Linked DNA regions of Homo sapiens: regions 1, 2 and 4 are each linked to region 3. Evidence: fine-mapped expression QTL. A gene starts in region 3. Each other region holds a variant in brackets. All regions are shown on one strand. Distances are between the middles of the regions.

Region 1 (5,151 bases), 100 kb before region 3:
TCATATAATTTTTATATGTCACAGAGGATTCTTTTGTTTTGCTTTTTTGCAATCATTTAAAAAATGTAAAAAATTATTCTTAGGCCCCTAGCCATGCAAACACTGGCATTGGGCTAGATTTGACCCCTTGGCCTTAGTTTGCTGAATACTGGTGTAGTTTTTCTGCCTTTCCTAATGTAAACATGATTGTAGAAAGATAACCTTACTGGAAGTCAGGAAACCTTGGTGCTCCCACCAAAGTTGTGTGACTGATTAAGTCAGGTGAAATAAATTGGGATTAGGAGCCATGGTGTCTAGTCCTTGACAAGTCATTCCTCAATTTTTTTAATGTAATCACCTGAATTTCTAGTGTATGCATAATCACATTTTGTGTGCCTCTCGGCAGCCATTCCATTGTTGAAGAGGCAGCCAACACAGAAAATTGTTGAGGGGTTTTGATCTTTGACAAGGGAAGCGTATAGTGTGAGCTCACCAGTCACCCTGGCTTTTTTCCCTGGAGACATTTCCTAGTTTGTGGCATAGGGGAAATAGATCCCAAATAAAAAGTGACGGTCTCACTGGGCTAAGGAAGAAAGGTGGAAGTTTGGGGCCACTAAAGCAATTGAAGCTTAAGTCCAGGAGAGGAGAGAACCACATAAAATCTAACCTCAAAATCTGCAGTCAGGTCCCTCTAAAGTCATTGACTGACTTCAGAGGTACACATAAGCAAGAGAAGAAACCCAGCAGAAAACAGTAGCTGAAAAGCTAAAGATCTGAGCAGACATTTCAGTATCTAATGCCAGAGAGGCAAAAATGGAAGTTCAAATCCTGCCAAGTTAGAGGGGCCTTATTACACCCTGAGTTTTCCACTGTGGCCCCATCATGACCACTGCCTAAGATTGAAGGCAAAACTAAAACAGACCAGCCCTCAGGAAAATGAGTTACTGCTGTGCTGCTGCTAAAAGGAAACAGCCTTCTTTGGAGAAAGGTATTATCTAAAACTTCTACAATTTTGTATCCATAATTCAGTATTTCATTCACCAAAATAGGATATGCTGTTTTGGACAAGCTAATGAAACTGAATTGACCAAAAACCAATAGAAATTATCTAGTGCTGACAGAAAAAAAAAAGTGTACAGAAGAAAGCATGAGAGACTTATGTATTGCTGATAGACAGTGGAAAGGTCTATCATGTATAATAGGAATCCCAGAAAGAGAGGAGATAGACATACAATGGGATGGAAATATTGACTAATAATTTTCCAAAACAGAGATATCCAAGCACATATTAAAGAAGCTGTGTGATTCCAAGCAGGGTAAATAGAGAGAAAACCATATTGAACATAGCTGCTAGAAATCCAAGAGAAAGAGAAAATGTTAAATGCTGTCAGAAGAAAAAATTCATTATCTTCAGGGAACAATAATATGAATGATGGCTGATCTATCACCTGAAACTGTGGAAGACAGAAGACAATAGAATGGTGTTCTCTTTAAAGCACTGAAAGAAAAAAAATGACAACCTAGAATTCTTTATTTATTTTGAGATGGAGTTTTGCTCGTGTGGCCGAGGCTTGGAGTGCAATGGCGTGATCTTGGCTAACTGCAACCTCTGCCTCCCGGGTTCAAGCGATTCTCCTGCTTCAGCCTCCCGAGTAGCTGGGATTACAGGCATGTGCCACCACGCCTGGCTAATTTTGTATTTTTAGTAGAGGCAGGGTTTCTCCATCTTGGTCAGGCTGGTCTAGAATTCTAAATCTAGAATATCCTTCAATAGTAAAGTAAAATGAAGACAAACTAAAGCTCAGAAAATATATTGCTGATATGCTGACACTAGAGAATATTAAAGCAAGTTCTTTGTGTTGCAAGAAAATAACAGATAAAAGCAAAGAACTGCAGAAAGAAATGAACAATGGTAAGGATAAATGTGAGTAAATACAAATTCTGACTGTTTAAAATAATAGTTGTGGCTTGTGGGATTTAAAATATGTGGAAACAAAAATACGACAACTGTAGAACAAAAGGCTGGAGGCGGGTGGTAATCAGTCAAAAGTGTATTTGTAATCTCTAGAGCAACCTCTAAATGAAAAAAGAATATATAACGAAAAGCTAATAGAGGAGAAAATGGAATAGTAAAAAAATAACTGATTACTCCAAAGAAATGCAGGGAAAGAGAGAGGAATGAAGAACAGATGGGACAAACAGAACAGATGACAGAATGGTAGACTTAAACTCAACTTCGTCGATGATTATATTAAATGTAAAAGGAGCAAATATTGGCTGGGCACCGTGGCTCACACCTGTAATCCCAGCACTTTGGGAGGCCAAGGCGGACAGGTCACTTGAGGTCAGGAGTTCAAGACCAGCCTGGCCAACATGGTGAAACCCTATCTCTACTAAAAATACAAAAATTGGCTGGGCGTGGGTGCCTGTAATCCCAGCTACTCAGGAGGCTGAGGCAGGAGAATCGCTTGAATCTGGGAGGCAAAGGTTTCAGTGAGCTGAGATCATGCCGCTGCACTCCAGCCTGGGTGACAGAGTGAGACTCCATCTCAAAAAGAAAAGGAGCAAACATTGAAATTAATGCAAAGCTCAGAAGACCTAACTATTATAGATACTGTTTACAAGGGATGTATTTTAAATCTAAGGACACAAATGAGGAAGTAAAAAAAAGGGGGGGGGGAGGGGGGTGTGGGGGAGACGATATCATGCACACATTAATCAAATGAAAGCTGACTTGGCTATATTTATGTTGGAAAAAGCTCTAAAACCAGAAATAACACTAGAGGTAAAGAAGGGCATTATATAATGCTAAAAGGATAAATTTAATGGAAAAATATCTAAAATTTTTATATATGTAATAGTATAGGTCTAAAACTAAAAGGAAAGGTTGACAACTATTATAAAAAGTTAAAATAGACAAAACCACAACCATAGATCAGTGCCCCTCTTTCAGTAACTAGTAGAACAAACAGGAAAAAATCAGCGAGGATAAAGATTTGAACAACACAGCCACCCTGACCTACTTGGCGGACATAGAACACTTCACTCAATAATTTCAGGATATATATGCTTTT[CA/C]AAATATGTATGAAACATTTACTAAAATATACCATATGCTATACCATAAAGCACCCCTCAGTACATTTGAAAGAAATGACATCACAGATGTCAGCCAAAATCCATTTAATGAAAAACGTGAAAGACTGCCATACTAGAGTATATAACATTGCTGAGAGAAATAAATAAAAGGAGAGATACCATATTTGTGGATTGGAAGACTTGAAATTGTGAAGATACCAATTCTGTCTAGACTTACCTACTTATTCCCTGCTCCCCCCCCCCCACCCTTTTTTTTTTTTTTTGAGGCAGAGTTTCACTCTTGTTGCCCAGGCTGCAGTGCAGTGGCACGATCGTGGCTCACTGCCACCTCTGTCTCTTGGGTTCAAGCGATTCTCCTGCCTCAGCCTCCTGGGTAGCTGGGATTACAGGCACCTGCCATCACGCCTGGCTAATTTTTGTATTTTTAGTAGAGGCGGAGTTTCACCATGTTGGCCAGGCTGGTCTCTTCCTGACCTCAGGTGATCCACCCACCTCGGCCTCCCAAAGTGCTGGGATTACAGGCATGAGCCACTGTACTCGGCCTTATTCCCAATTTAACACCTCACAAGTTTGGGGGTGGAGGGGCTAGACACAAGCCAATTTTAAAACATTTGAAAGTTCAAAAGGAAAATCTAAAGAACAAAATTGGGATGTTTATATTACTAGATACCGAGACTTTATAAAAAGCCATAGTAATTAAGACATTGTGGTATTGATGCAAAAATAGACAAATGGGGTAATGAGCTATATAGTGGCTAAAAACAGACCTGTTCCTGTATGGTCACCTGATTTTTCTACAAAGCTGCCATTGCGGTTCAGTGGGGAAAAGGATGATCTTTATGATAAATGGTGCTGAATCAACTGGGTATCTGCTTAGATAAAAACCTTGACCTTTACATCAAACCATACACAAAATTAATTTGAGATGGGTTATAGAATGAAGTGGGCTAAAACAATAAAATATCTGGAAGGAAACATAAGGAAATATGTTTAGAGAAGGCAAGAATTTCTTGAATAAGATGCAAAAGGCCTTAACCAAAAAAAGATTGACTAAGATTTTTTAAGATTTAAATTCATTAAAGAACTTCTGTTCATCAAAAGATAGCATGAAGAGATGGAAAAAGTCCAGTTTTAAAGAATGAACAAAAGACTTAAAACGAACTTGTCCAAAAAAAAAAAAAAAGATAACCTAAAGGGTCTATTAGGCACATGAAAAAGATACTCAATGGCCAGGTGCAGTGGCTCACGCCTGTAATCCCAGCACTTTGGGAGGCCAAGGCGGGGAGATTATTTGAGGTTAGGAGTTCGAGATGAGCCTGAGCAACATGGTGAAACCCTGTCTCTACAAAAATTAGCTGGGCATGGTGGTGTGCACCTGTAATCCCAGCTGCTCAGGAGGCAGGAGAATCCTTGAACCCGGGAGGTGGAGGTTGCAGTGAGCCATGATCTTGCCACTACACTCCAGCCTGGGTGACGGAGCGAGACTCCATCTCAAAAAGAAAAAAAAGGGTACTTGACAACCTTGGTCCTCGGGGAAATCAAATTAAATCCAACGAATACCACCATATACCCAACAAAATGACTAAAATTAAAAATACTGATAATTTGCAGTATCAGTAAAGATATGGACCAACAGTGTTAGGAGGATTATGAATTGGTATAGCCACTTTGGGAAACTGATGGTATCTACTACTTAATGAAATAAACTGACCCGAGCAGTTCTACTGCTTTGTTCTATACATACCTAAGATAAATATGCCCATGGATATTCATAGCATTTGTAATAGCCCCAAACTGGAAATAATCCAAATAGAGTAGTAAAGATATTGTCATATGTTCATAGAATGGAATACAGGTTGAATATTTTTTATCCAAAATGCTTGGGACCCCAAGTGTTTGGAATTTGGATTTTTTTCAGATTTTTGAGTATTTGTATTATACTTACCAGTTAAGCATCCGTAATCTGATAATCTGAAATCTGAAATGCTCCAATGAGCATTTTCTTTGAGCATCATATTAGCACTAAAAAAGGTTTCGGTTTTGGAGCATTTTGGATTTCAGATTAGGGATACTCAG
Region 2 (5,151 bases), 35 kb before region 3:
AAGGCTTTAACACTAACAACTAATAATTTCTTCCAATTCCAGATCTGCATACGAAATCGCCTGTTGGTATTTTTTGTCTAATTGATACCTCAAACTTAACGTGCCTAAAATTGAACTCCTGACTCCTTGACACAGACCTCCAGATTTGCTCCTCCTGCAGTCTTCCACATATTCATAAGTAGCAACTCTATTGTTTTAGTTGCTCAGGCCAAAAAATTATTTCCATTTACCCTTCTTTTTCTTATATTTGTACCTTGAAAAAATATCCAGCATCCTACCATTTCTCACCACCTCCACCACTAATACTATACTTTTATTGTCACCTCTTGCCTTGATTACTGGCATAAGTTTCCAAATAGTCTCTCCCACCCCCACCTTTTTTTTTTTTTTAAAGACAGGGTCTTACTCTGTTACCCAGGCAGTAGTGCAGTGGTGAGATCATGGCTCATTGCAGCCTTAACCTCCTAGACTCAAGCGATCTCCTGCCTTAGCCTCCCAAGTAGCTGGGACTACAGGCATGTGCCACCATGCCCAGCTAATTTATTTTTTGTAGAGATGGGGTCTCGCTATGTTGCCCAGGCCGGTCTCAAAATCCTGTGCCTAAGCAATCCTCCCACCTTGGCCTCCCAAAGTGCTGGGATTGCAGGTGTGAGCCACCATATGCAGCTATAATCTATTCTTCATACAGCTGCCAGAGTAATTTTTTTTTTAGGTAAGTCAAATCATGACTTCTCTACTCAAAAGCCTCCAGTGTCTTCCAGCCTTACATAGGGTAAAAGAGAAAGTCCCTGTCATGGTCCTACATGGTCTATCAGCCCTCCTCCCTTATCTCTTTGATTTCATCTCATATCTTTGCTCTTCCACTCAAGCTACACCGGCCTCCTTACCTCAAAGATACCAGTTACACTCCCATCTCATGGTCTTTGCACTTACTATTCCCATAACCTGGAATGTTGTTCCCCAAATATCAGTATGCTTCACTTCCTAACTACGTTCAGGATTCTGCTTAAATGTCACCTCAGAGAGACCTTTCCTTATCACCTTATATAGAGTAGTATCTCCCTCCATGGAATAGAAGTGTCCAGAAATATACCGTCACAATTATGTTCAATTGAATTTTGACAAGGGTGCCAAGAAAATTCAATGGGGAAAATGTAGTCTTTTCAACAAATGGTGCTATGACAACTGGATATCTACAAGCAAAAGAATGAAGCCGAACCTCTGGTTTATACCATATATAAAAATTAACTCAAAATGGATCAAAGACCTAAATGTAAAACCTAAAACCATAAAACTCTTAGAAGAAAACATAGGGGTAAGTCTTCGTGACCTTGAATTAGGTTTCTTAGACATGATACCAAAAGTAACATGTAACAAAAGAAAATATAAAATAGACATCATCAAAATTAAAACCTTTTGTCCTTCAAAGGATACCAAGTGAAGAGATGACCTATAAAATGAAAAAAATTTTTTGCAAGTCATCTATTTGATAAGGGTCTTGTATCTAGAAATATAAAGAGCTTTACAACTTAATAATAAAAAGACAATCAATTTAAAAAATGGGCAAATAATCCAAATAGACATTTCTCCAAAGAAGGTATGCAAATTGCTAAAACACACACACACACACACACACACACACACACACTTGAAAAGATGTTCAACATCATTAGCTGTCAGGGATTGCAAATCAAAAGCACGATGAGATATTACTTCACACCCACTATGATGGCTATAAACAAAACAAAAATAAAAGTATTGAAGAGGATGTGGAGATACTGGAACCCTCATACACTTCTTATGGAAATGTAAAATGGGGAAGTTGCTTTGCATAACAGTCTGGCAATTCCTCACAAGGTTAACATAGAGTTACCATATGATCCAGCAAGTCTAGTCCTGGCTATATATGCCAAAGGGTAAAAACAAAACTATGTCCACACAAAAAACTTTAACATGAATGTTCATAGCAGTATTCATAATAGCCAAAGTACAAACAACCTGAATGTCCATCAGCTGATAGAATGGATAAACAAAATAAGGTATATCCCTACAATAAAATATTACTTGGCAATTAAAAGGAATGAAGTACCTGGTTCAAGCTACAAC[G/A]CAGATAACCTTGAAAAGATTATGCTACATAAAAGAAGCCTGTCACAAAGGACGACATATTGTATGATTCCATTTATATGAAAGGTCCAGAATGGACAAATTCAAAGACAGAAAGTAGATTAGTAGTTGTTATGGGCTGAGAGAAGGGAGAAAATGGAGTGTGATTGCTTTATATATAGAGTGATGAAAATGCTTCAAAATTGACCGTGGTTATGGTTGCTTAACTCTGAATATATTGAATATCATTGAATTGTACATTTCAATTGGGTGATTCTAAGGTATTTTAATTACATTTCAAAGCTGTTAAAATTAAAAGTAGTTCCTCCCACTATTACTCTGTATTCCCTTTCTCAGTTCCAATTTTCCTCATAGCACTCAACCATCATGTAACAGACTGCTTTTTACTTATTTATCTTGTTAATAAATTTCCTCCCACTAAAATACAGATTCCAAGAGAGCAGGGTCTTTATTTTGCATTTGTTTGTTTTGTTTTGTTTTTGTTTTTGAGACAGGGTCTCATTCTGTTACCCAGGCTGCCAGCTGCAGTGTGCAATCGTAGCTCACTGCAACCTTGAACTCCTGGGCTCAAGCAATCCTCCCACCTTGGCCTCCCAAAGTTCTGGGATTACAGATGTGAGCCATAGTGCCTGACCTTTTTTTTTTTTTTTTTAAGACAGAGTTTCATTCTGTCACCCAGGCTGGAGTGCAATGGCGTGATCTTGGCTCACTGCAACCTCCACCTCCTGGGTTCAAGCGATTCTCCTGCCTCGGCTTCCCAAGTAGCTAGGATTACAGCTGGGATTACAGGCATGCGCCACCACGCCCGGCTATTTTGTATTTTTAGTAGAGACAGGGTTTTCACCATGGTGGCCAGGCTGGTCTCAAACTCCTGATCTCAAGTGATCCACCTGCCTCAGCCTCCCAGAGTGCTGGGATTACAGGCATGAGCGCCCAGCCTTATTTTGTTCTTATTCTATCTCCAGAGCCTAGAACAGTGCCTGGCACATAGTGGGTAGTCAATAAATATTTGTTGACTGATCAAATGAATGGAACTTCCAATTCTTTTTCATACCTTCTTATCCATTAAATAGGGAAACAATAAACTATAAAATAATTATTCACTGAGCTCACTTTGCACTGCCGCTTACTCCAGTGGCAGATAGAGAAGCTGTTTTTTGGCTGTTCCAACAAGGTACATTTGAATCCTGTAGGCGTATAGAAAAGGTAACTGCCTAGTAGATTTTATCCTGTTCTGTTAAGTGTTCACTGGACAACTACTTTATGAATAACACACCAAGTTCAGTGCCCTGGGAGTTTATTGTAAAGAAGTATTATATCACCCCATTCCCATTCCTGAAATAGCAAGACATACTGTTGAAAATGTAACTGTTCTATACATTTGTTACTGAAAGCCTGGCATACTGCCAAACGAAACATTTCTTTAGTCCCATATCCTAAAATAACCTCAAGTTAAGATAGTAGCTACAAACTAGCTTATAATAATAATACTTTACATTTGCACAGTGCTTTACAAATTATGACTTTTACAGAAATTATCACACAAATAGCTGTGGGGGTGGTGGCATCCTCATTTCACAGCTAATGAAACTGAGGACCGAGGAGGCTGGGATTTACTCAAAATCATAGAAGTTGCAGAGCCAGAACATCTAATGACTTCCTAGTGTTCTCTTTTTTCTGTGACATCTAGCCTCCATATAAACCTCTCATATTGGTTAGTTTAGAAAATGCATTTATTTCTTGTCTTGGGAATTAAATAGCCGCAGTATTCCCTCCATTTCACAGATGCAAAAACTGTGGCTTAGTAAGATTGTGATTTGTCCATGGCCATGAAGTTAATAAGTAGCAGATACTAATAACTTAGTGCTCTTTGAATTATACACCACTGACATAAGAAAGAACATGTGCTGTCTTTTCAAATAGTGAGTTTTGTAATTGTCTCTTTTCTTTTTTTAATCTTGGCTGCAAAGAAGCTAAAAGCCAGGTATTATCCTTGACCACATCAACTCTATTACATTTTATTACTGGCATGTCTGCTTTCCCCTTTTAGTCGAAATTTCCCTTTTGGGTCTAAGCTCAATGAAATTTTTTCCCCTTTTTTCTCAGCTGCCTCATTCCTTTTTGGAAAGAGATGGGTTGTGATTAAATTGGAAAATATATATAGGGCTTCTCCAGAAAAGAGTGGACTATTTCTTTGTTTATTCTGATTTTATCTTCTTACCTGATGATCTTATCAACAACTCCTTTAAGGTGGGATTTATTTACATTGGTGATGGCTTAATTTCTAAACTGGTTCACACATTAGGGAGGATGCCTATCTAATGAGAGAGTTAGACTACACTTCCAGCCCCTTTCATGCATCATGGAGGGTAGCAATTTAATCAAGAAGTTTTTCTCTATTCCCGTTAATACTCTGGCCAAGATGCCACAATATCATCATAGCTGAGTTCTTCACTATCTATTACTTGATTCCAGATTAGGAATTTAGAAAGCAATGAGATAAGTAGTGTGTTTTGACAGAATAATCCAATGACAGTATGCAAAAGAGATCCAATATAGGGAATGTATTGGAAACTGCTAAACTTGCTATAGCTGGAAACAAGGTTGTGAAGAAAATTGATAGCAGTGCTGAAGAAAATGAAACAGATGTTAGAAATGTTAAAAAATTATAATTATCATTACCTGGTAACCAGTTGGATATAGGGTACATGGGAGAGGGAACTGTAAGTTTCAAATATATATAACAGGAAGAGTAATGGGTTCCATAATGGAAATAGGGAAGCCTACAGAAGCAAACTGGATTCTTTGGGAAGATAAGGAATTTGGTATATAGACATGAATGTAAGGCAGTAACTGGATATAATTAAATGAATGGTCAACAGGTATGGTAAAAGTCATTACGTATAAATGATGCTTCGAGTATTTAAGAGATTCAAGGTCAAAGTAATATTAATACTTTTTAAGAACTTTCCAGGCACTGTTCTAAGTATTGCCCATGTATTATTAACTCTCACAATTCTTAGATCT
Region 3 (5,151 bases):
TGCACCTGTGGTCCCAGCTACTCAGGAGGTTGAGGTGCGAGGATTGTTGGAGCCTGGGAGGTTCAGGCTACAGTAAGAGGTGATTGAGCCACTGCACTCTAGCCTGGGTGACATAGCAAGACCTTGTCTTTAAACAAAAAAAGCTTATTATACCTCAGTAGCCTAAGTTTCTGAGGAAAGTTTTTTTAGTCCCTGGGTAGACCGTTTAAAATACAGACTGGATTCCTACTAAGAACCTTCTAATGGTCCTTCACTACAAATGGAATAAAATACTCAAACCACACCTCATACGGGGTCCCTCATCTGACCCATTGAGGCCACAACAGAAACTCTGCAGCATTCCTCCCTTTGCAAGAACAATTCTCTTCCTAGATCTGTTTACAAGGCAAGCTCTTCCTTATTTAGGTTTCCTATCAAGTGTACCTCCTTGGAGACCATCTCTCCTCACCTGACATAAAGTATGCTCATACCCCAGGTCACCCAAAACAATGTCATTGTTAATATATTTGTCTTCATGACACTTAACACTACTGGAAATGACCTTATTCTTTCATTTACTTGTTTGTTCTTTGTCACCCCTTCTAGAATGTAAGGTCTATGTTGAGGGTGAGGACTGCAGTTCAACACTATACTTCCCTAAACAGTGCCTTGAGTATGGAAGGCAGTCAATTTGCTGAATAAATAACGAATGAATCCTGATCTGGAGAAAGGAGGAGGAGTTGTGTTACACAGGAACATTCTACTCAAGGACTGTGACTAAGGATTGAAATAATCTGCTAGCAATAGATGATTAGCATAAGCTTCAAACTAGGGCTGGGCGCGGTGGCTCCCGCCTGTAATCCCAGCACTGGGAGGCCGAGGTGGGCGGATCACTTGAGGCCACGAGTTGAAGACCAGCCTGGGCAATAAGGCGAAACCCCGTCTCTACAAAAATTAGCCCGGGGTGGTGGTGCATGCCTGTAGTCCCAGGTACTCAGGAGGCTGTGGTGGGAGAATCGCTTGAACCCGGGAGGCAGAGGTTGCAGGGAGCCAAGATCGCAACACTGCACTCCAGCCTGGATGACAGAGTGAGAACTTGTCTTAAAAAAAAGACTGAAACTAGGCTTTAGGCAGTTAACTTTTTAATAAAGAATAGTCATTTTATGTTTGGTGTTGAATGTTAGCTATTGTAATATAAAACTCTATTTCTTCCCTAAAAGGGGAAAAGCACCGTAATGTACCTATTGTTAATATACTCTTGTAACATGATTATTGAATATTAAAATATCATCATAGTAGTACTAAAAAATTGTTCCCTAAGAGTTCAACATTCTCTTGAGTCCTGAAGTTATAAACTTAAGAGTAATGGGGAACAAAATTAGTACTTATTATGTACGTAGTGAGTTCACATCACCCTAACAGAAAGTTGAGCTATTATCCACATTTTACAAATAAGGGACTCGAGACTCCTAAGTTAAAATTAAAATCTAGCCGTTCCCTAATGCTAATTTTCATCATGATATGTAAAAGTTATAACCATTGGTTTATTTTAAAAGCCTGAGTACAATAAAAAATCCAAACGTTCTGAGATGTCTTTGAATACATTAATCAGGACTGAGTACTGCATCTGTCTTTGCCCCTCCTGAAACCAATACACACCTTATCTCCATCGCATTACCTTTGGGAATGTTATGGCAGTCCCTCTTTTCATCAATACTACATAGTCTTCCAAGGCTGGCCTCCTCAGCATGTACTGCTTACCGAAGGAACTCCTCAGTATCTGGCCGGGGAACTTCCCCACGATCTTGCCGAACGGGACTGCCCCCCAGTTACTATTTAAGAGTCCGAAGTTGTTCAACCTAAATAATTTCTTAAATTTTGTTTCTCCCTCCCCAGTCTCAGCTAAAATCAGTTCCCCAGCCTGAAAGGGTCTCTCTCTGGAAGTTGAACAAGAAGGGGAGACGTGACGCTCTTCGACCTCGGTAGCGGACTGGGCCTGCGAGAGCATCGAAGGATCCTCGGATCCCTGGTGTGTGGGACCGCACCGGCCCTGGTCTCCGCTCGAGTCCTCGAGCTCTCGAGGGGATGACTCTTCCCGCAGCGTCGGCAGTCTGAGGTTTTCCAGTGACGAAAGACATCCAGTCCCAATGTCCGAGATGCTCAGAGGGAGAGATGGGCAAGACTCTGCTCCTGGGGCTTTCCTTTGTGCCGCCTCGTGCTCTCTTTCTCCATCTCGCAGGTCTCTAGGCGAGGACCTGCAACACAGTGACCGAGCTCCCTCGAAGGGCTCCTGCCCCAGGCCGTGCAGGAATGAATTGGTTCCGAGCCCCTGCCGCAGGCACAGCAAGACAGGACCGCGGCACCATGCCATTAGCATAGTGTTTCGCGAAGGCGCCGTCGCAGACGAGTGACGCAAGCCTAGCGCGACCCCTTCTTTCCCAGTCGCGCGCATGGCGCAGCAGCCCGATGGCTCTGCAGCTGCGTGGGGCTCTACAGCTCCGCGACTGCGCCTGCGTCGGGGAGGGGGCGGTGCGCTAGGTCAAGCTAGGGCGCGGGAGCAGCGGAGTCCTGGTTGAGTGACCATCCAAGGAATATGTCCTCGCGCGCGGCCGCCGTTTTCCTTTTCGGAATGTGGGTAAAGAATTTACCGCTAACAGACGACCTCCAGGTTCGCTCTTGGACAGCAAGATTGAGAGACAAAACTTAACAAAGCGCTGTGCAAACTGAAATCCCAGGCTTAGCTCGCTTGTGTCTTGAACACGGAAGTCACCTAGTCACCCACAAGATGTATGAGTACAGCTAACCCCCAGATGCATTTGACAGACGGCGTGGGACGCGCCACTTGCTGATTGGCTCTCCTTTCCCAGTTGACCGCGACATCCCCCAGCCCCAACTCCCTTTTGATGGGGCTGTGACCACCTGCCGGTCCCCTCACCCACCCCTCACGCCCGGAGAGTCCGAGGTTGATTCGAGTACTCACTATGTGCTTATGTAACACATGTTTTCATTATTAAAATATAACTAGTTTACCCTCCCAAAACGAAATAGAAGTGTCTTAAAATGGAAACAGGTATCTTTGGAGGCCAGAGTTATTTAGCGTTAAATATCACTAGCCTCCCAGCATTTTGGGAAGCCGACCGAGGCAAGCGGCTCATTTGAGGTCAGGAGTTCGGGACCAGCCTGGCAAATGTGGTGAAACCCCGTCTCTACTAAAAATACAAAAATTAGCTGGGCGTGGAGGCACGCACCTGTAATCCCAGCTACTCGGGAGGCTGAGGCAGGAGAAGCGCTTGAACCCGGGAGGCAGACGTTGCAGTGAGCTGAGATCTCGGCACTGCACTCCAGCCTGGGCGACTGAGCAAAACTCCTCTCGGGGGAAAAAAATTAGTCGGGCGCGATGGTGCACGCCTGTAATACCAGCTACAAGGGAGGCTGAGGCATGAGAATAGCTTGAACCCAGGAGGCGGAGGTTGCAGCGGGCCAAGATCGAGCTACCACTGCACTCCAGCCTGCGCGACACAGCAAAACTCTGTCTCAAAAAAAAAAGAAAAATCGCTAGCCTCTTTGCTGGATATTAGTTGACTGGGCAAAAGTTTATTGAGAGTCTGGCAATACGAGGCACGTTAGACACTCATTTAAGTTTCCAACAATTCTGTGTTAGAAACAAATCCATTTTATGAGTAAAAGAACTGGCCCAGGGAGATTAAATAATTTGGGGAAACCAGGAGTGGTGGCTCACACCTGTAACCCCAACACTTTGGGAGACCCAGGCCAGAGGATTGCTTGAGCCCAGGATTTCAAGACCCACGTGCAACATAATAATAATAAGTTGGTCAAGATGCATAGCTGACAAGTGGCATTGCAGAGTTTCCTATTTAGTCAGTCTGGTTCAGCAGCCCATGCTCTTTGTACTGTAACACCGTTTGGAAAGACTGGTCAACAGCACAGTTGAACTTAAAGTCCAAGTATATTCAAAGGGCTGTGAAGTCAATGTGAATTCTGTTTAAATTTGATGAAATAAATCTTGTTATTCTTTTTTTTTTTTTTTATTTGAGACAGAGTCTTGCTCTTGTTGCCCAGGCTGGAGTGCAATGACACGATCTTGGCTCACTGCAACCTCTGCCTCCTGGGTTCAAGCGATTCTCCTGCCTCAGCCTCCCGAGTAGCTGGGGTTACAGGCACCTGCCACCATGCCAGGCTAATTTTTGTATTTTTAGTAGAGACTCGGTTTCACCATGTTGGCCAGGCTGGTCTCGAACTCCTGACCTCATGATCCACCCGCCTCGGCCTCCCAAAGTGCTGGGATTACAGGCATGAGCCACCGCGCCTGGCCGTTATTACTTTCTAAGACATAAATTAATACTTTCTAATCAGTACTTTCTAGGACATCAGCCACCATAAACTCCATCAACAGGATTTCTCCCTTCTTTTTTTCCTTTTTTTTTCTTTGTGAGACAGAGTCTCACTCTCGCCCAGGCTGGAGTGCAGTTGTATGATCTCGGCTCACTGCAATGTCTGCCTCCCAGGTTCAAGCAATTCTCCTGCCTCAGCCTCCCAGATAGCTGGGATTACAGGTGTGCACCACCATACCCAGCTAATTTTTGTATTTTTAGTAGAGACGGGGTTTCGCCATGTTGGCCACGCTGGTTTGAACTCTTGACCTCAGGTGATCCACCCACCTCAGTCTCCCAAAGAGCTGGAATTACAGCCATGAGCCACTGCACCCAGCCAAATTTCTCCCTTCTAATTCTAAAAATGAATAAAGAAACTGCTCTCTCCACACCCCAACTGCGTGTCTCACTTTGTGTAGTTTGCTTTTTAGGAAAAGTTATGACCAATAGTTTCTGGAGTCGTAGGCTTTTCTCACTACTTTTTCTTGTGATAGGCTTTCTAAGACAAAAACTCATTTTTGGTTATAAAATTCTTGAAATTAAGGAGATTATCATTGCCAAACATGGGTCTGAGCCGGAACCTCCTGAACTCTAAGCCCTATGGTGGTTTTAAAAGTTATCATACCTACTTTATTATTTCTTGAGTATTATCAAATGATACTTGGCTGTTATTTCAGAATAAGCAGGAATTGGAAAAAAAGAAAATACACTAACAAAATATGGGAAGTAAATTTACATATCTTTGATTTTTAAAACAAATTGTAAATGGAAAATGGCATCA
Region 4 (5,151 bases), 500 kb before region 3:
CTATCTCAAAGCCAGGCACTCCCTCTTATCAGATAAGAAACCACGACTCAGAGAGAGGAAGCTAGCTGTTCAAAGTCACAGTCGGTGGTTGGGCCAGGAAACGGGACCCACTTCTCCCTCCCAGGCCTTCCTCATGTGCAATGCAGGCCCCCAGCTCAGGCCACGCTCCTCTGCCTAGCGAGGGTCCCAGCCTCTCTGCCTGCATCTGGCTTCACGCACACTTTCCGAGGGCAGGGGCTGCCCGGCTGCTACAAGCCGCAGTGGTAGGGCAGTGACTTGGCTGAGGGGGACATGGGGCTTGTCATTCCTCCCAGGGCTTCTCCAGGAAGTGACAGCCAGAAGGGCCCTGGGAGGCCGCTTGGTTCGATCCCACCCCCCTTTCCCATATCACAGGTGACTGGAAAGTCCAGGCCCCTGAGGTAAGGAGGTCACATAGTGAGTTGTCAGTGGGGGCAAAACCTGAGTTGCTTATTTGTTTTCCCTAAATCGCTCCTCTCCCTGAGTTTGCATCGAGCCCCTCAGAGCAATATTTTTTTCCCAAATGGTCTTCGCAGAGCACAACACAAGAATTGGTTTTACCACACGGCCCGCGTGCACTTCTTAAGGGCAGGCTGCCCATAAGGATCGAAAGCAGGGATGGGGAGGCAGCTCACTCCACGCGTGTCCTCCTTGCCTTTATTTATTTCTTCATTGAGACAGAGTCTCTCTCTGTTGCCCAGGCTGGAGTGCAGTGGCGCGATCTTGGCTCACTGTAATCTCCGCCTCCCAGATTCAAGCGATTCTCCTGCCTCAGCCTCCCGAGTAGCTGGGATTACAGGCGTGGGACACCGCGCGCAGCCCCTGCCTTTATTTTTTATAACCAAGACTGCTGTCTAAGAAGGTGGCTTCCATGAAGATCATTTTGCCCTGCGAGCACCCGGCTGGGTTGGATGTGCAGAGAGGGGTCTAGAGGAGTCGGCAGAGGAGATGGGAGGCCCCATGGGCTGCCTGAACAAAGGGAGAGGAGTCTGGAGAACACAGCAGGGAGAGCAGGGGTGAGGGGGAGAGAGGGGTGGCAGGGCCAGGGCTGTGAGAGGCGGCGGCTGGGACTTTGGCACTGTGCAGTGGGGAGGCCAAAGTCCCCAGTGAAGCGACTGACTGAAGGGCATGTGAAGAACCTGAACGTGCTGTGTTCCAGGAGAAGCTGTTTCCCTATCCACGGTGCAGTGAAGGCCCCCACCTGCTCTCCGCTCCAGAATGGGAAGAGAGGGAGGGATAGACGCTGCACCTGGGTTATCACAGGGTGGCACAGAGAGAAATGCAGAAGCAGGGCCTAGAGGCTGAGGACCCCCGGAACCTAAGCCCCACCGCACTGCCATTCTAGGGGACCAGAAGAAATCCTGGGGAGGGCCCTGGGTTCCTCCGCCCCTGGCATGGGGGTTCACATTCATCATGCTTAGACCTCAGGAAGCTGGGAGTCCCCCGCTGATATCTGGGTTATACCTACATTTTCTGACTTACTCCTCTCCGCATCTCTCTGCCAGAACTGTTATTCCCATTTTCCACCATGGGCACCCGAGGGCAGAGAGGTTAAGTAACTCGCTGAGGCCCCTGATGGTGTAGTTGAGCTGAGACTGAGAGTCCAGTGTGTCCCCTGCAATCCAGCCTCTTCGTTCTACACCATGTACCCTCTGGCCCTGCCTGACCCCTCCCCAACACCTGGCCAGAGCTGGGCTCACCCCACTCACTCAATACTTGTGCACTGCACGTGGAGGGGGCCAGCGCACAGGCATCGGGACTCTGAAGATGTGGGTTCGAATCCTGCTCTGACACTCACCACCTCTATTAGGTTTGGTACATTTAACTCTGCAAGCTTCAGTTTTCTCACCTGTGAAATGAGACCTGGGACAGGTGTGAATGAATGTTCGTATCTTCATCATTACCTGCCCAGCAGCGCACCAGGATGAAGGCCCCCTGGGAGAGCCTCACAGTAAGTGCAAGAAGCTCCAACCTGGCCCTCCTTTCTGTCCCTTCCAGCTCTGTGATGAGGCGTTTTTAGGACAAGCCCCCAAGTTCACCCCAGCTTTTCCTGCCGGCTCCATCCCTTGAGGAGTGAGCAGTCTACTCGGGGGAGCGGGAACCCCGCCAGGGACCCTGGGAAGGGCCAGTGACCACCCAAGGCCCCTAGAAGGGCCTTTGGGACTAAGACCATGGCCAGAAATGGGCCAGATAGAGGCACTTGGTAGTGGCTGGTTTCTTAGTTCCCAGTTTAAATGGGGAACTGCAGAGACCACCCACCTAACCACAGGTGAAGGAACTTAGCCTTTCTCTGCTCCTGAGCCTTGGAGTTCCCAGTGTCTGGATTATATTCCTGGATCTTAAGACATGATGAATTACCGCCTCTGTGGAATGAAAAGCCCTCTCCCTATCTCCTTTCCTTCCTGCTCCTCTGCCTGGGCTGTGGGATTCCAGAACCCAGCTGGGGCT[G/C]CCCCTCTCTCTTCCCTTTTCTGCTCCTGGGATCTGCTCAGCCTCTGAGCAGCAACCAATTCTGTGGCACTGGTGATCCTGGGCTCAGGGTGCCGGCTGGAACATAGCTCAGGGGACCATAGCACAGATGCCCTTTCCAACTCCAGGAGGCATCGTTACCCATTTTACAGATGAGGCCCAAGTTTGCCCGAGTCCGTGCCACTTGTCAGTGTGGCCTCTGAGCTTTGAGCCAGGGCCTGGCTGATATGAAAGGCTGCCAGAAGGAACTGTAAATGAGAACGAGAGTGGGGAAAGTGGGGGAAAGATCATCTTGCCTGCCTGTAGCAGAATGTGTCAATCACATTTCATGGGCAGTGTCTGGAACTGCCTTTTAGCATTACTTGAAAAACATTTAATTACTTTGTACAAATTAATAATAACAGTGCTACTAGATTTGCTCAGTGCCAGGCACTAAGTGCTTTACATCTGTGAACTCATTTAACTGAATTGGTCCCGGGGTTGGGATAGAACAGCTGCCCCTCCTTCAGCAGCGGTTCCAGCCGTCCTAGCTCTGCGGCCTGGCCACTTTGTTTTCCCCAATCCCTGGCCTCCAGGAGCAGGGCTCTCAGCTCCCCTGGCTCTCACGTCCTCACCTGAGCTGAGGAGAGGACAGGGTGGCTCTCTCCAGCTCCACACTGGTCTGTATCAGGCTATTTCACCCTCATTCAAAAAAAAAAAAAACAAAAGACAAAAAACAAACAAACAAAAATAGGCCGGCACGGTGGCTCACGCCTGTAATCCCAGCACTTTGGGAGGCTGAGGTGAGTGGATCACTTGAGGCCAGGAGTTTGAGACCAGCCTGGCCAACATGGCAAAACCCCATCTCTACTAAAAATACAAAAATTAGTTGGGCATGGTGGTGCAGGGCTGTAATCCCAGCTACTTGGGAAACTGAGGCAGGAGAATCGCTTGAACCTGGGAGGCCAAGGTTGCAGTGAGCAGAGATTGTGCCACTACACTCCAGCCTGGGCAACAGAACCGGACTGTGTCTCAAAAAAAAAAAAGAAAAAAAAGAAAAAAGAAAAAGAAAAAGAAAAACAAGCTGCCTCCCACTTTGGGGGCTTTTCCCTTCTCCTTTCCAAGTTGTAATCCCCCAACTGGCCTCCAAGTCATGACCCCACTCGCCATGGCACTGACTCAGCCAGCCTCTGGGCCACCACCTGGGAAGATTTCGACACCCTGGCAGGCAACCCATCCAGTACCCTTGCCTACAGCTTCTTGACCTCTGCAATCCTGTGGACTTTCAGCTTTCTCTCAGCAAGCCACTCCCTGGCCAAAATCTGAGCCTTGTCCCCACCTGGAAGGGCTCCATTCTTAAAATCCCCCTTCAGACTGTACCTTCCTGTGCACCCAACTCTCCCTTAGGCCTGCAGGGACTACCACCTCCTTTCTCCCCACTGCTCCTCCTTCCCTCCCTCCATGGCCCCCAGTCTCTCAGTTCTGTTACACATTCACTTGTATTCTATTTCCACCTCACCTCCAATGCCAGCATCTGAACACAATGATAAAAAAGGGAATGCTAGGTTCTTTTCACTTGGGACTGTTAAGCGCACAATTTCTAAGTGAAATATTAGCACAATGAATCAAACATTATATTATAAAAATACATCCTGCTCAAATAGAGTTTATTCAGGGAAAGCAAGCATGATTAATACTGTTGAACTTTGTACTATAATTCCCATTAATAGGTCAAAAGAGGAAAAACAATTTGACTATCTAGATAGATGCCAAGAAACATATAACATCCAACATAGCTGCTTTAAAAAAAATCTCTTAGTAAAACTGAAATAGAAGTATGCTTCTTTGATGTGATTAAAAAATACCTGTGTCAGACCAATAGGCAGCACCATGCGTGATGCTGAAACACGAGGGATATTGATGTTCAACTCAGGCACAAGAAGAGGATGCCAGGATTTGCCACTATTGTTTAACATCATTCTGGAACTGACAACCGATGCTGTTGATTAGAGGCAATTACTACGAGGCAATGATACCCCAGTAGCAGTAAGCTAGAAAGCCCCAGATCTCAATTTTTAAATGCCATTCTCCTTAAACAAATTTATAAGAAAAAATCAAACAACCCCATCAAAAAGTGGGCGAAGGATATGAACAGACACTTCTCAAAAGAAGACATTTATGCAGCCAAAAAACACATGAAAAAATGCTCACCATCACTGGCCATCAGAGAAATGCAAATCAAAACCACAATGAGATACCATCTCACACCAGTTAGAATGGTGATCATTAAAAAGTCAGGAAACAACAGGTGCTGGAGAGGATGTGGAGAAATAGGAACACTTTTACACTGTTGGTGGGACTGTAAACTAGTTCAACTATTGTGGAAGACAGTGTGGCGATTCCTCAGGGATCTAGAACTAGCAATTCCATTTGACCCAGCCATCCCATTACTGGGCATATACCCAAAGGATTATAAATCATGCTGCTATAAAGACCCATGCACTCGTATGTTTACAGCGGCACTATTCACAATAGCAAAGACTTGGAACTAACCCAAATGTCCATCAGTGATAGACTGGGTTAAGAAAATGTGGCACATATACACCATGGAATACTATGCAGCCATAAAAAAGGATGAGTTCATGTCCTTTGTAGGGACATGGATGAAGCTAGAAATCATCATTCTGA

Alleles and levels. Positions count from the first base shown, and alleles are read on the strand shown. Sizes are in standard deviations (SD) of each study's normalised expression. Not every link is listed here.
In carriers of allele CA in region 1, the expression in prefrontal cortex of the gene that starts at base 2,388 in region 3 tends to be higher than with C alone (small effect, 0.35 SD a copy in GTEx).
For the expression in subcutaneous fat of the gene that starts at base 2,388 in region 3, allele A in region 2 goes with a higher level than allele G (moderate effect, 0.58 SD a copy in GTEx).

What was found. PIP is the estimated chance that this variant, and not a neighbour inherited with it, causes the effect. A credible set is the group of variants that fine-mapping cannot tell apart.
Region 1: its variant is the best candidate, but not a certain one, in a credible set for the expression of TRMT61B in prefrontal cortex (GTEx, PIP 0.88).
Region 2: its variant is the best candidate, but not a certain one, in a credible set for the expression of TRMT61B in subcutaneous fat (GTEx, PIP 0.69).
Region 4: its variant is the best candidate, but not a certain one, in a credible set for the expression of TRMT61B in pancreas (GTEx, PIP 0.61).

Annotation. Positions count from the first base shown.
Region 1 is chr2:28,767,733-28,772,883 of GRCh38, forward strand. The region is part of intron 1 of PPP1CB (protein phosphatase 1 catalytic subunit beta); the gene reads left to right. Among named protein-coding and RNA genes, the nearest start is that of PPP1CB, 18 kb to the left of the region's middle. The variant CA/C (reference allele first, on the strand shown) is at 3,054.
Region 2 is chr2:28,832,468-28,837,618 of GRCh38, forward strand. The region is part of intron 6 of SPDYA (speedy/RINGO cell cycle regulator family member A); the gene reads left to right. Among named protein-coding and RNA genes, the nearest start is that of SPDYA, 24 kb to the left of the region's middle. The variant G/A (reference allele first, on the strand shown) is at 2,107.
Region 3 is chr2:28,867,922-28,873,072 of GRCh38, forward strand. TRMT61B (tRNA methyltransferase 61B) reads right to left here and starts at 2,388. Exons shown (of 7, transcript NM_017910.4): 1 at 1,658-2,388. The coding sequence starts at 2,356. RefSeq lists enhancers at 382-897, 898-1,412, 2,042-2,566, 2,181-2,350, 2,581-2,730.
Region 4 is chr2:28,366,872-28,372,022 of GRCh38, forward strand. No RefSeq gene overlaps it. Among named protein-coding and RNA genes, the nearest start is that of FOSL2, 23 kb to the right of the region's middle. The variant G/C (reference allele first, on the strand shown) is at 2,467.